Linked DNA regions of Homo sapiens. The protein of the gene in region 1 purifies or fractionates together with the protein of each later gene. This does not show direct contact. Each region holds a gene or a part of one and is shown on either strand. Other genes may lie near its edges.

Region 1 (3,816 bases):
TGCATCCAACAAGGGCCTTGGAAACCATGGAGGGCACGCACAGAACCCGATCAGGGCGGAGGGAGCCCAGCCTGGTGTAGGAGGGGCTTTGCTCAGCACCTTGCCAGGGAGATGTTCTCCCAGTGACTGCGGCAGGGAGGGGGTGATGCTTCTCCCACTCTCCCAGCTCATCATTATTCATATTATCATAGATGATTCCTCTCCAGATCAAGCAGTCATCTGCGGCCCATCCGGGGCATTTCCTTCCTTATCAGCAGTGGAAGGACTGTGGCATGACGGGGATGGTGACAACTCTGGCCTTAACACCATCAAACCAACCTGCCATCACTCTGCTGCCTGTAAAGCCAGAGCCTGGAAAGGGGCTGCCAGGGTCTGCCTGCTCCCGGGCATCAAAACCCACTTACCCCACCCCATGTCATGGAGCCTCTTCTATGTGGGAATCCCTAGGCTCAGTGTTAGAAAGACGAAGAAGCACAAGGCAGCTCCCTGGCTCCCAGGAACGGCACAGCACACCAGAAAGAACCCAGAATCTGGACTTCGAGGCCAGGGGTTGGAACCCAGGTGATTCCTCACCACTGTGACTTGGGCGAGCAGCTCTTTCAGCCTCTGGTTCTTCCCTGCTAAATGGGATCCAATGCTAAGCTAAATAGGCTTTCCTGAAAACGACATGAAACGTGACACATCTCATAAACTCGAAAGGGCTCTTTCATTCCCAGAAGAATGTAAGTTCCACAGAGGCAGGGATTTTTATTGTTTTGTTCACCAATGTATCCCAAACCAAAAGGTGGCAATCAATAAATACTTTATTTGGCCAGGTGAGGTAGTTCAGGCTTGTAATCCTAGCACTTTGGGAGGCTGCGGCAAGTGGATCTCTTGAGCCCAGGAGTTTGAAACCAGCCTGGGCAACATGGTGAAACCCTGTCTCCACAAAAAATACAGAAATTAGCCAGGTGTGATGGCGAGCGCCTGTAGTCTCAGCTACCCGGTAGGCTGAGGTGGAAAGACGGCTGGAGCCCCCGGGAGGTCGAGGCTGCAGTGAGCCAAGATCACGCCACTGCACTCCAGCCTGGGTGACAGAGCCAGACCATATCTCCAAAAAAAAGGAAAATAAATAAATAAATAAATAAATAAATACTTTATTCACTGCTTTCAGAAAAGAGCAATAGGTGGGTTTCTCAAAGGAGGATAATGGGGCTTAATCAAATGGTGGCCACTCAAAAACTGTGGGAATGAAAAAACAAACTGGGGCCAGGTGCGGTGGCTCACGCCTGTAATCCCAGCACTTTGGGAGGCCAAGGCAGGTGGATCACCTGAGGTCAGAAGTTCAAGACCAGCCTGACCAACGTGGGGAAACTCCGTCTCTACTAAAAATACAAAGTTAGCTGGGGGTGGTGATGCATGCCTGTAATCCCAGCTGCTCCAGAGGCTGAGGCAGCAGAATTGCTTGAACCAGGAGTCAGACGTTGCGGTGAGCCAAGATTGCGCCATTGCACTCCAGCCTGGGCAATAAGGGCAAAACTGTCTCAAAAAAAAAAAAAAAAAAAAAAAAAAAAAAGAACAAACTGGTAGCTCTGTTCATTAAAACTATGGTAGGTGATTCTCAGTAACTCGTGAGTTTCTCAATATTCCAGACAAACTAACTTTTAAATTATTTAATCTATGATGAAGTGAAAAGAATAAGGCATGGAAAAGCCTCTATCGAGTCATCAAATTATGGTGCTTTTCTTTTTTTTTTTTTGAGACAAGCTTACTCTGTTGCCCAGGCTAGAGTGCAATGGTGCAATCTCAGCTCACTGCATCCTTCACCTCCAGGGCTCAAGCAATCCTCCCACCTCAGCCTCTTTTTTTGTTTGTTTGGAGACAGAGTCTCACTCTGTCACCCAGACTGGAGTGCAGTGGCGCAATCTCGGCTCACTGCAACCACCGCCTCCCAGGTTCAAGCGATTCTCCTGCCTCAGCCTCCTGAGTAGCTGGGATTACAGGTGACTGCCACAACAGCTGGTTATTTTTGTATTTTTTAGTAGAGATGGGGTTTGACCATGTTGGCCAGGCTGGTCTCGAACTCAGGTGAACCACCCGCTGTGGCCTCCCAAAGTGCTGGGATTACAGGCATGAGCCATCGCGCCCTGCCAAATTATGGTGCTTTTTAAAAAGTATGTGAATGTGACATGGGCACACACTAGAATGGGCACAGAATGCTTCCCAAAGGACACCTGAGAAGCCATCACTGTAGTTGGGCCTGGGAGGGAGTGCCATAGAGATCAGCGGTGTGAGTAGGAGAGAGTCTTCCTATTCATTGTGTTTCTTTTAGTGCCATGTGAATTTTTACTACATGCATTGGTTAGTTTTCCAATTTAAAAACTGATTAAATTATTTAAATAAAAACTAATACAGTGCCTTGTCTTTTCCCATAAGCTCTATTTGTCAAAGCAAGTCCTTTTCCAAGACCCTGTTTGAATCAGCTCCCTCAACAAAACCTTTTCAGAGGTGGACTCACCCCCACCAAGAGCACTCCGCTTAGACCGTAATGTAGCCCGGTCTCACACTCACACCACCCGCACCCTTGCTGCCGGAGGAGGCTCTGAATATAATTATATTATCTCTATATAATTATATTATCAGTAATTGCTATAATTACTGATTATAATTATATATTAATTACTGATCAATGTATTACTCAGACCAATCTGCTACTAACTAGCTAGGTTGTCTTAGACAAGGCACCTAAAATCACTGAACTTTTTTTCCTCCATAATCAAGGGAAAATAATAGGACCTACTTTACAGATACCTCTGGTGATGAAATAAGATCAAGCTTAGCCCAACAAGCCAAGCACCCAGAAGACAGATGCCTAAAAATATTTCTTTCTTTTTCGCCAAGTCTGTTGAGGTATAACTGAAACACAATAAACTTAAACACATTTAGGGTGTACCATTTGAGCAAATTTTGACATTGTGTATACCTGCTACCTATTGGTCTTCCTTTCCTCCCACTATTCGATGGATATTTGCTGACAGAAGCAAGGGATGTCTTTTATTAAGGTAGGTTTCCCTCTGCCCCGCAGGCATGTGGCAGGAATGGAGTCTTTCCTCTTTATGTTCCCCCACTGTGCCCAACTGTAGCTGCTCACTAAATGCTGCTATCACAGAATAATGATAGCAAGAAGGAATGATGAGTCACTGTAAACTTCTCCACCTTCTGAAAACCACTATTTCTTCTAGAGGTCATCAGGCTCCCTAAAATCCTCGGCACACACACTGTTTAAGATGTAATTGCTGTGGAGGCATCGCAAGTCCAGCGGGAGGTGGGGGGATGACAGCCCAGCCAAGGGACCAATCACAAAACTGCTTCAACAACTACCTCAAATTGCAAAAGAGGGTCAAGGTCTCAAAGAGCTATTTGGAAGCACAAGAAGAATATTTCGCCATCCTTAGCTTCTCTGTTTAATCAGGGGGCATAACAAACTCTTCAGTGATTAAAATAAACCAGGGCATAAGTGCTCATTAACCCAGCCCTGGTCCTCAAAATCCCAGAGCTCTCTCTTGACTCCATTCGAACAACACAACACAAGAGCAGGGACTCTGACAAAGGAAAGAAACAAGCAAATAGCAACCGTAATGGCTTAATTCTAAAGAATGACCTTTCCTTGGGGACACAAAAGGGGTTATTTGCAAGATATGAAAAAAAAGACATTTCACTAAGAAGGTCAACACTTCCAAATTACTGAATGATCAGTGTGGTCCCCCAAAACTGATTTCCAATCACAGCACAGATCCTTTAATGGTAAACAAAAGTGAACACCATTTTAATACTGTT
Region 2 (3,816 bases), on another chromosome or scaffold:
CATCACAATCTGAGTCTGAAACCAAGTTGCAGTGGTGAGAGCCCGACAAGTGTTTAAAAATAATTTCCATATTGATCATTGCACATCAATTTCATAAAACAACATTTGCTCCTGATTAAATGTGAAATAACAGACATTCATAAAATTGGGAGTGAAAGTGGTGCTCACAGCTGGGTACGGTGGCTCATGCCTGTAATCCCAGCATTTTGCGAGGCCGAGGTGGGTGGATCATGAGGTCAGGAGTTCAAGACCAGCCTGGCCAAGATGGTGAAACCCCATCTCTATTAAAAATACAAAAATTAGGCCGGGCCCGGTGGCTCACGCCTGTAATCCCAGCACTTTGAGAGGCCAAGGTGGGAGGATCACGAGGTCAAGAGATCGAGACCATCCTGGCTAACACGGTAAAACCCCGTCTCTACTAAAAATACAAAAAATTAGCCAGGTGTGGTGGCGGGCGCCTGTAGTCCCAGCTACTCGGGAGGCTGAGGCAGGACAATGGTGTGAACCCGGGAGGCAGAGTTTGCAGTGAGCCGAGATCATGCTACTGTACTCCAGCCTGAGTGACAGAGCAAGACTCCGTCTCAAAAAAAAAAAAAAAAAATTAGCCGGGTGTGGTGGCGGGCGCCTGTAATCCCAGCTGCTCGAGAGGTTGAGGCAGAGAATTGCTTGAACCCGGGAGGCGGAGGTTGCAGGGAGCTGAGATCGTGCCACTGCACTCTAGCCTGGGCGACAGAACGAAACTCCATTTCAAACAAAAAAGTACATGGTGCTAGCACCCACCATTCATGCCCTTGGAGGCATTCACACCTGTGTGCACATGTGTGCCCCCCACTCAGTGCCTGCCCCTGAAGCTTCTTGCCAGCAGAACTGGGGAAATGCTTTTGGTCATTGCCAGGGACTGTGCCATGCCCTAGAGCCCTTGGGGTCTGCTATGGAAGCCTTACCACCTCCAGGGTGCCCCATTCAGCCTGGTCTGACACCCAGCTGGCCCCAGGGCTGCACCAGGTCTCAGGGATGTGCTGCCTGGGGTAGGGGGAGGTGGTCTCTGTCCCTGATGAGCCTCAGCCTTTGTACCTCTAACTGCCATGTTTCAACCCAGACCCAGCCCAAGTCTCCATGTCCCTTCTGGGCAGAAGTGCCCCCCAACCTCTGCAGCAGGGATGGCAGGAGAGCCCACCTTCCCTGGGCTGGACAGTGCTAGTAGAAGGCAGTGCACTTGCCCCAGACCTGGATGGGCCAGTCCTGTAGGTGCCCATTGGTTGTGTCCTGGCCAGCGGGCAGGAGAAGGGGGAACACCGCAGTCCCTGAGTGCTATGGTGGGGATGTGCCAGGGTCTGGGATGACAGCTCCTCCACCCTATGGGTGGGGTCAAGCTCCATGTGGTTCTGCTCAGCATTCTCTCTTAAATACCTTCCTCCTCTGCTTCCACGTCCCACAGCCCTGCAGGTGAACAGGGGTCGGGGGAGCCAGGGACACCTCATCCCAGTCCAGCCCCAAACCAGGCTGGGGCTGTTGGCTTCGGGTGCTGATTCTGACATAATGCTCTTACAAAGGGAAAATAAAGGGGAGAAAAGTAGGAAGAAAAGCTGACTGAGCATGGACTTTTGTCCTAAGATGTTCAGCTGTCTGTTTTTAAACAAGGAGCAATTATATATGTTTGCCTAATAACTCAGGAACATTAATTGCCAGGTTATTTTTGTTCCAGCAGTCATGTTTAGCTGAATTGCTGGTGGTTTGCCAGGGATTTCATTGAATACATAATTCAGGGACAAGCCAGCATGCTGAGCACCCAGATCAAGCCCCAAAGGGAGGAGGAAGTAGCTCTCTCAGTCATCACTGGTGGGGCTGCACATGGGTAGAAGCCTATCTGCGCCCCACGTCCAGAGAGACAGGGATGCACCCACCACGGTGAGGTCCCTGAGGATGGCAAGTCACCTCGGCTTTATTTTGTTCCAATAACTGAAACCACTAATTATCCATCACCACCTGACACCCACGCTGCTAGGCAGGGTGAGTGCGTGTACTGTCCGGGGGGTATGTGCATCATCTCGGGGGGTGAGTGTGTTCTGCCGGGGGGTGAGTGTGTGCACTGTCTGGGGGACAGTTTGGTGACAGATAGGAGGTACTCTGGCCTGAGATCCAGTGATCAAACCCTCAGTGGTGACCCCATGGAAGCTGTCCCATGGAGTAACAGCTTGTCCTGCAGCCACTCTAGGCTGAAGCCAGCAAGTGGCATCACGTGGGGCTGTAAACAGGCAGGTTTTTTTTCGTTTTTTCTTTTTTTTAAGATGGAGTCTCACTCTGTCATCCAGGCTGGAGTGCAGTGGCGCTATCTCAGTTCCCTGTAACCTCTGCCTCCCAGGCTCAAGCAATTCTCCTGCCTTAGCCTCCCTAATAGCTGGGATTACAGGTGTGCGCCACCATGCCAGGCTAATTTTTGTATTTTTAGTAGAGATGGGGTTTCACCATGTTGGCCAGGCTGGTCTCGAACTCCTGACCTCAAGTGATCCACCCACCTCAGCCTCCCAAAGTGCTGGGATTACAGGCGTGAGCCACCGCACCCGGCTGTAAACAGGCAGTTTTGAAAGAGATAGGGTGACATCATGAAGTGATTGTGTTATCTTGCTGCAGGGTCTTGGTTTTCCGTGATGGGTATCAAATTACCAAATACAGTGGCCGAGGCCGGGCATGGTGGCTCACGCATGTAATCCCAGCATTTTGGGAGGCTGAGGCAGGAGGATCACTTGGGCCCAGGAGTTCGAGACCACCCTGGACAACATAGTGAGAACTTGTCTCTACCAAAAAAAAAAAAATTAGCCGGGCATGGTGTTGTAGTCCCAGTTACTTAGGCATGCTGAAGTGGGAGGATCGCTTGAGCCGGCGAGTTTGAGGCTGCAGTAAGCTATGATCATACCACTGTACTCCAGCCTGGGCAACAGAGCAAGATCCTGTCTCTAAAATAATAATAATAATAATAAAAAAAAAAAACATAGTGGCCTAAAGCACCCTACTTTTTACTCCAGTCCACAGGTGAGGAGTCCAGCCCAGCCTAGCTGGGTACCTGTACGAGGCCTCCCAAAGTGCTGCAGAGGTGCTGTCAGGGGCTCCATAGAAGTGTCTGTGCTCCCAGCCTGCAGCGTGCCCTTCCCCTGGCTGGACACCCCACAGGCAGAGCAGAAGCAGCCACCAGAAGTGTCTCACACCCTCCCATGAAGTCAGGAAAACACAGCGCACATTTGCTCAGTCACCCAGAGGTGGCACATTTCGTCTTTGGCTTAGGGCTTCGGAAAATAGTCCAGAGAAATCCCGAGGCCAACTGGAATGGCAGGACCCGCAGGACAGGTCCTGGCAGCAACACACGGGTTCTGAGTGAAAGCAAGAGGGGCCCATGTCAACCCTCCTCCTCTCCACCCAAGGGGCTGGGTGGCACTGACCAGCACCCGCAGGCCAGCCATCAAGCTTCCTTTCCAGAGATGGGAGCACTCGGGGTGGGTTGAGTCTCTTCAGCAGCCTGCAGGAGGCAGCCCTGAAACGCATACAGAGCTGGCTGGCTCTCCTCAGCGTGCTAGTTTCCTGGGGCTGCCGTAACTAAGCACCACAGACCAGGCGGCTGCAACAACAGACACTATTGTCTCGCAGCATTGGATGCTGGAGATCCAAGATCAAGGCGTCAGCAGGGCTGGCTCCTTTTGAGGGTCTTCTCGGTATGCAGACGACTGCTTCTATCTCTGTATACACACCAGCTTCCCCTGTGCGTATCTGAGTCACCCATCACATTGATTAGGGCCTACCCACATGACCTTATTTTACCTTCAT

Evidence for each region.
Region 2: the proteins of QDPR (region 1) and TANGO2 fractionate together in Homo sapiens (co-fractionation; one large-scale study listed by BioGRID). This does not show direct contact.

The regions. Positions count from the first base shown.
Region 1 is NC_000004.12:17,494,918-17,498,733, forward strand, and holds part of QDPR (dihydropteridine reductase), read right to left. Parts: intron 1-3,816. UniProt on the Homo sapiens protein: Catalyzes the conversion of quinonoid dihydrobiopterin into tetrahydrobiopterin.
Region 2 is NC_000022.11:20,038,098-20,041,913, reverse strand, and holds part of TANGO2 (transport and Golgi organization protein 2 homolog), read right to left. Parts: intron 1-3,816. UniProt on the Homo sapiens protein: May be involved in lipid homeostasis.